2 linked regions of the Homo sapiens genome follow. The protein of the gene in region 2 interacts with the protein of the main gene of each other region in a pairwise test. Each region holds a gene or a part of one and is shown on either strand. Other genes may lie near its edges.

Evidence for each region.
Region 1: the proteins of VPS9D1 (region 2) and UBXN11 interact in binary tests that used the Homo sapiens proteins (3 or more experiments, as listed by UniProt).

What each region holds. Positions count from the first base shown.
Region 1 is NC_000001.11:26,293,041-26,296,848, forward strand, and holds part of UBXN11 (UBX domain-containing protein 11), read right to left. Parts: intron 1,292-3,808; coding exon 1,165-1,291; intron 1-1,164. UniProt on the Homo sapiens protein: May be involved in the reorganization of actin cytoskeleton mediated by RND1, RND2 and RND3. Promotes RHOA activation mediated by GNA12 and GNA13.
Region 2 is NC_000016.10:89,714,329-89,718,136, forward strand, and holds part of VPS9D1 (VPS9 domain-containing protein 1), read right to left. Parts: exon of another isoform or gene 3,016-3,808; intron 2,577-3,015; exon of another isoform or gene 2,495-2,576; coding exon 2,402-2,494; exon of another isoform or gene 2,297-2,401; coding exon 2,134-2,296; intron 1-2,133.

The sequences.
Region 1 (3,808 bases), on a different chromosome or scaffold from region 2:
TTCCAAATGGGCCCCTTGGAAGCTGTGCTCCTATTCCCGTGGGACCCCTGCCCTCAGACTTTGGAAACAACAATGGCTGCAAGGCCAGAGCTAGGCGCTCTGCGTTTAACTCATTTGCTCCTTGTAACTCCCAGGGAAGAACACTCCTGTTTTGTTGATGAAGTGAATAGAGGTCATCTGCCCAAGTCACACTTGGGATAGGAGGTAGAGTCGAGTTGAGGGCCCAGGTGTGCCTGACTCTAGAGCCTGGAGAAGCATCTTTTGGGTGACAATCTCCATTCTTTGAAGAGAATGGGCCTGGTTTTCAGAAATGGCCAGTTTTATGGACCCAAATCTGTGGGTCTATAGGAGGGGACTGTGGGAGGAATCCCTCTAGATATTAGAAGTTAAAAATAAGACATGGTAGGCCAGGCGTGGTGGCTCACACCTGTAATCCCAGCACTTTGGGAGGCCAAGGTGGGCAGATCACGAGGTCAGGAGTTCAAGACCAGCCTGGCCAACATGGTAAAACCCCGTCTTTACTAAAAATACAAAAATTAGCTGGGTGTGTTGGCACACACTTGTAATCCTAGCTACTCAGGAGGCTGAGGCAGGAGAATTGCTTGAACCTGGGAGGCAGAGGTTGCAATGAGCCAAATCGTGCCACTGCACTCCAGCCTGGGTGACAGAGCAAGACTCCGTCTCAAAAAAAAAAAAAAAAAAAAAAAAAAAAGACATGGTAGGGGCCCACAGAACCAGGTGGATTCCAAGGGCCATAAGCAAACCTGGAGAGGGAGGCCAAACCTGGGAATTTGGCAGCAGCTTCTAGAACAGAAGGATTGCCTTTTTTTAAAACGGCAACATCTTCCAGATTGGTGGCGTTTTGTAGACTATGTGACCTGAGGCAAATAAGGCCTTGCTACCTCTTGTATCTCTGGGTCTCTGACAGATGAGCAAGAGAGAGCAGAGGTAGGACCGTGGAGAAGTGGGCCAGCAGGTTAAGTGGTCAGTGATGGAGGCCAAGGCTGCTCCCACATTGTCTCAGGGGCAAGTTGTGGGCTCTCAGGGCGTCTTGGGTCAGGGACCCGGGCACGAATGAGATAGGCCTCTGGGGAGCTGCCGGCCAACAGCAAACTGTTGGAGAATTCCTTTTGAAGAGGGCCTGGGGCAGACGCCCTGCTCTACCTGGCTTCCAGAACTTCTTGGCTGTCATCCAGTCCCTCTCGCCATGCTCTGAGACTGTCTTGCTCTCTGAGTCCTCCTGGTCCATGGGCTCGCCCACCCACTGCAGGCCATAGTCACTGAGGAACCGCTGTGGGAAAGAAGGGGGAGATGCGGGGCACCGTCAGCTCAGCCCCTTCCCAGGGAAAGGCAGTGTCAGCCCAAAGCCCAGCCTCAGTCTGCAGGCAATGGGGCCCCCAGAGCTGACCAGACAAAGGGATGAGTAGGGGGATCTTGCCATTTCCTGGCTGTGACCTTGGAAAGCCACCTCAGTCCCTAGAGCCTCAGACGACTCCTCTAATAAAATGGAGTGACAGTTCCTGCCACATAAGCTTGTGAGGAGGGCTCAGTAAGATCACTCAGGTCAGCGCCCAGCCCATGCGAGGGCTCGGTAAGGTCAGCCTCCTTGGCTGCAGAAATCACGTGGCCTGGCCCAAGTGTGAGAAGGAGGCAGGGCTGAGGGATGTGAACCATGTGCCAGCCTCCCTAGGGCTTGGCCGCATGTCCCCTCTGCCACAGGAAACTTCTGGACTGTCTACATGTCCACACCCCGACTTCTTTTCTCAAGCCACTCTAACCTGGCTCCATCGCCATACCTCTCTGAAACTGCTCAAGGTGCTGCAACCACCAACCTACCCGCTGCCAAGCGCATGGGCACATTTCTGTCTATCTTTCACCATCTGCTAGTTTTCCTCCCATCTCCTGGGCTGTTCCTTTCCAATTTCCTTCACCGTTTCCCCTTCCTATCCAACACCAACTCATGGGGGCCCAGCTCCATCCACACGCTCTCCCAAATATATACGACAGAACCCAAGTTTGTATTTATGCAGATTTCACCCGAGCTCCAGACTCACATTTCCAACCGTCCACACTTGGATGTCTAATGGCTGTGGCTCTTGTCCCCCTGTCAAACCTCCCCCGTGCCAGGTTTTCCTGTCTCCAGAAATGGCACCCCCTCCACCTGAGAATCCTCTGTCGCCCATTCCTCCAGGATGACCCACAAGGCCTGTGGTGCCCCCTCCAATGCAGCCTGGAACCCATCCACTGGGCTCCATCTGCTGCCACCACCCTAGTTCAAGCCACCGTCATCTTTCTCCTGGACAATCCAGGGGCGGCGCCTGCTTCCCCCGTCCTCTCCTCACCCACACCACCCAACCCCACAAAGCAGGGTGGTCTTTTTGTCATGCCACCTCTCAAACAGAAGCCTTCCAATGGCTTCCCATTTTTTCGGGACAGGATCCAGCCAGAACCACGGGCGGCTCCAATGTGATAAGGCCCCCACGACCTCTTCTCTTTTCCCGTTCTTCTCCTTCCTCCACACAGCCACCGACCGCAAGCCAAGTTATGTGGCGGGAAGTGGCACCTTCCCTGTCTAAGGCCTGGATCCTCTCACCCCATTCCCCTCCTCACTCACCAGACATCATGCCCAATGTCACCCCCGCAGGTGGTCCCCCAACTTGCCTCTGTGGTGTCACCCATTTCATCAAGTCACAGCACTCTCTGTACTTGTGTACCTGTGTACTCGTTTGTTCCCCTCCCCACAGACTGGCAGCCTCATGCAGGCGGGGGACTATGTCTGTCTTGGTCATGCTCTGCCCCAGGCCTGCCCCAAGCAGATCCTCCAGATGAGGCTGTTAAATGAATGAAGTGATAACTGTGTGGCGGAGACGCATGCAAGGGCAGTCATGCCCCTGCCCCGAGGCTCTGGTGCAGCCCTCACCGCCTGTGGCCACTGCTCGGGGACAACCCCAGGTATGAACAGCTTGGAGTGGGAAGGGCTCTCAGCTGCAATTGGAGGTTTGCTGCCAAGGTTTTAAATTAGATTGGGACTTTGGAAACCAATTCTGCGTGGAGAGGGAGAGAGGCTGAATCCCAGGAAGAACTTCTGGCAGGGCCCATGCGTGCCTGGGACCCTTCTCTGTGCCTGGTGTCCCTCTAGTTCCCTTGCTGTTTGAATGGGTCTGTGAGCGGGGGAAAGAAAGGTGACTGGGGTCACTGAGTCCCCAGTGAGCAGAAGTCACAGCCAGAGGCAGCAAATTGCTTAACCAATTCAGTGCTAGGTCCTGGGTGCACAGTGACATACAGGAGGAAACTGCTCCCTCCGTCGTGGAGTTCAGAGTCCCACAAGGGAAGAGAGATGAGGCACTGAGAAAGCTCGGGATGGAAAACCTGCCTAGGAGGCCCGGGGGATATGACTGAGGACAGTGGAACTGACCTGGGGGAGGTGGGGAAACATTTCAGCAGAGGGAACAGCAACAGCACGGCCCAAGGCCCTGAGGTGGGAAGCAGCTCCATGAGGTCAAAGACCCAGAGGAAGGGCCTCATGGCTGGAGGGGAGAGTGGTTCAAGCTAAGATGAAGAGGCATGCAGGGGCCAGCCCGCAGGGGCCACAGCGAGGACTGTAGAATTCAGTTCAGTGGGAGCCATGAGGTCTGCTAAGCAGGGGAGAGGCATGTTCAGAGGGCCCAAAAGCAGGGGTGTGCCCCAGCCCCAGACACCTCCCTGGCTCTTTAAAGTCTGGGCCAGTCCTGGGTAGGGAAATGCAGGGCAGGGTCCCTGGGTGGGATGTGACGAGGAGAGGCCCAGAGAGGTGGGCTCGGACCCAGCT
Region 2 (3,808 bases):
AAGGCAAAAGATTGGACACCCCTGCTTTAAAGGCACTATGTGGGTCAAACAGCCAGATTAGTCTGTGACCCATGAAAGGAAGAAGTGTCCTGTCTCCTTTATACAGTTCCCAACAGCCACTCCACCTTGAAAGCTTTGTTCCCTCGTACCTTCCCACTGTCAGGGACAATGGAGGACAAGGAGGAAAGTCAGAGCCTGACGCCTGGCCACCCTGCCCTGAAGCCACATTGCAGAAACAAGGGGACTGGGAAGCCAGGCCCCGCCAGAGCAGGGGCAGGAGGAGTGGACCCTTCTCGTCTCTCCCACTTGGGAGTCACTGGGCTTTTTGCATTTGTGTCTTTGTATCTTTCATCAGTTCTAGACAACTGTCTGCCATTCTAACTTCTAATAATGCCTCTCTCCCATTTTCTTTCTTCTTTTTTTTTGAGCCGGAGTCTCGCTCTGTTGCTAGGCTGGAGTGCAGTGGCACGATCTTGGCTCACTGCAACCTCCACCTCCTGGGTTCAAGCGATTCTCCTGCCTCAGCCTCCCAAGTAGCTGGGGTTACAGGCACGCGCCACCATGCCCAGCTAAGTTTTGTATTTTTAGTAGAGATGGGGTTTCACCATGTTAGCCAGGCTGGTCTTGAACTCCTGACCTTGTGATCTGCCTGCCTTGGCCTCCCTCCCATTTTCTTTCTGGAACTCCAACGAACACGTTAGGCTTTCCATCTCTTGTTTTCTGTCTTTATTTTTTGTTTCTGTAATTCATTCTAGCTATCTTTTGACCTTTTTTCCAATACATGAATTTGCTCTTCAGCTATATCTGCTCTGCTGTTATAAACTTGTCTGCTCAGTTTTGTATGTATGGATTTCTACATATATATAGATATATAACTCATCCTTGTTCCCAGCTAAATTTTTTTTTTTTTTTTTTTGAGATGGAGTCTTGCTCTGTCGCCCAGGCTGGAATGCAGTGGCGCAATCTCAACTCACTGCAACCTCTGCCTCCTGGGTTCAAGGGATTCTCCTGCCTCAGCCTCCTGAGTAGCTGGGACTATAGGTGCCCGCCACCACGCCCAGCTAATTTTTTGTATTTTTAGTAGAGATGGGGTTTCACCTTGTTGGCCAGGATGGTCTCGATCTCCTGACCTCATGATCCACCCACCTCGGCCTCCCAAAGTGCTGGGATTACAGGCGTGAGCCACCGCGCCCGGTCATTTTTTTTTTTTTTAGACAGAGTCTCATTTTGTTGCCCAAGCTGGAGTGCACTGGCACAATCACGGCTCACTGCACCCTCAACCTGTCAGGCTCAAGTGAGCCTCCCACCTCAGCCTCCCTAGTAGTTGGGACTACAGGGGCACACCACTATGCCTAATTTTTTTTGAGACGGAGTTTCACTCTTGTTGCCCAGGCTGGAGTGCAGTGGCACAATCTTCGCTCACTGCAACCTCCACCTTCCAGGATCAAGCGATTCTCCTGGACTCAGCCTCCTGAGTAGCTGGGATTACAGGTGCACACCACCACGGCCAGCTAATTTTTGTATTTTTAGTAAAGACGGGGTTTTACCATGTTGGCCAGGCTGGTCAGGAACTCCTGACCTCAGGTGATCTGCTCGCCTCGGCCTCCTACAGTGCTGGGATTACAGGCGTGAGCCACCAGGCCGCCTGCATTTGCTTGTGTCCGGCCAGGGGATATTCCCATTCTGGGACTCATTTTAAAAACATTCGCTGTCAGGCCAGGCGCAGTGGCTCATGCCTGTAATCCCAGCACTGTGGGGGCCGGGCGCGGTGACTCACGCTGTAATCCCAGCACTGTGGGAGGCCGAGGCAGGCGCATCACGAGGTCAGGAGATCGAAACCATCCTGGCTAACATGGCAAAACCCCGTCTCTACTAAAAATACAAAAAATTAGCTGGGTGTGGTGGTGGGCGCCTGTAGTCTCAGCTACTTGGGAGGCTGAGGCAGAAGAATGGTGTGAACCCGGGAGGTGGAGGTTGCCGTGAGCCAAGATTGAGCCGCTGCACTCCAGCCTGGGTGACAGAGTGAGACTCTGTCTCAAAAAACAAAAAAAAAATCGCTGTCATCAGCTCATCTTTCTCAGCCTCAAAAACCCAATCCCAGGCTCATCCCACCTCCCATCTTGTCCATCTTACTTCTTACAGCTTTGTGACTCTGCCCCCTGAAGCTTCTGGAAGATCTCGGGTGGCAGAAAAGGAGAGAGCTTTCCTCCTTCATCGGAGTATACACGGCGGTGTCGGCCGGCAGGCTGGGGAATGGGAGCAGCTGCAGGCATGGTTGGCTTCAGGCGTGTTTTCCCTGCAAGCCATGGGTAACCAGGGGTCAAGCGGTGGGCCACATCCCACAGAGGAGATGCGGGCTTGGGGGATGCCCCAGGAGAGCCGCCTACTGCAGGAGACCCACCAAGCTTGGCGGCCGTCGACTGGGCCCTCTCCAGACACTGCTGTGCTAGCTTCAGCATCTTGGAGGTGTCGGGGGGCACAGTTTCCCCAGCTTCTGGGGGAGGGACAAGAAGGCTGGTCACAGTCGGCTCTACCACTGTTACTTACTGCTGAGATAAAATGAGGCAACGGAAAAGGCAGGCAAGCCCACTGCCCCCCTCAGCACCCCCACTGACCCCGGGCAAGCCCACTGCCCCCCCATCCCCTCACTGACCCTGGGCAAGCCCACTGCCCCCCCATCCCCTCACCCCGGGTAAGCCCACTGCCCCTCCCGTCCCCCAACTGACTGACCCTAGGCAAGCCCACTGCCCCCCCATCCCCTCACCCCGGGTAAGCCCACTGCCCCTTCCACCCCCCACTGACCCCGGGCAAGCCGACTATTCCTCATGGACCCCAGGCAAGGCCCCTGCCCCCACCATGGACCCCAGGCAAGTCCCCCCACCCACGCATTTCTAATCATCTGCCCTGGTTTTGCCTCCTGAGTCTGCTAAGGCTGTGGGCCCCTCATCGAGGCCCGTCACAGCCTCGACCCTAAACAGGCCTTTAGTGCTCACTCAGCTTCACTTGCAACTGCAGGCCTCTGGGAAGTGGCCGTTTTACAGAGACAAGGACGTGCTGAGGGGATCGCCTCACCCATCTCCCACCGGCTGTGTCCCCAAAGTCCTGCCTTCCCGTAGCTTGGCATGGAGCACCTCTGCGCGACCATGGACCTGCTCACACAGCCCTTCTGCGCGCCGTGGGAGCTGCCTCTCTGTGACTCGCCCCTGGACCCACCGCCCCAGCGCCTGACCCACCTCCCTGCTGCCCTTCACAGAAAACTTCTCATAGACTCCCATTTTCTCATCCCGCCCCGATTTAGCCCCCGACTCCCCCCGGAAACTGCCCTTACCCGTCCCCACCTTGCCAGACACGGTGGGCCACTGGAGTTCCTCTGTCTTCTGGGACTTTGCTCTCCCCAGGGGATCCTCTGCCACTCCTCCACCCAACTCCTCAATCTTGGAGCGCCAGAGCTCAGCCGAGCTCACCGGCTCCCTAGGGAGCTGGGGCAACTGTTAGCTCCCCCTGACCTGTGTGATCCTACGTCCAGTGGCTGCCCCGACCTCTGTGATCCCACGTCCAGGGGCTCCCCCGACCTCTGTGATCCCACGTCCAGTGGCTCCCCCGACCTCTGTGCTCCCACGTCCAGTGGCTCCCCCGACCTCTGTGCTCCCACGTCCAGTGGCTCCCCCGACCTCTGTGCTCCCACGTCCAGTGGGTCCCCCTGACCTCTGTGATCCCACGTCCAGTGGCTCCCCCTGACCTCTGTGCTCTATGTCCAGTGGCTCCCCCTGACCTCTGTGATCCTTTGTGCAGCGGCTGCTGGCCTCTC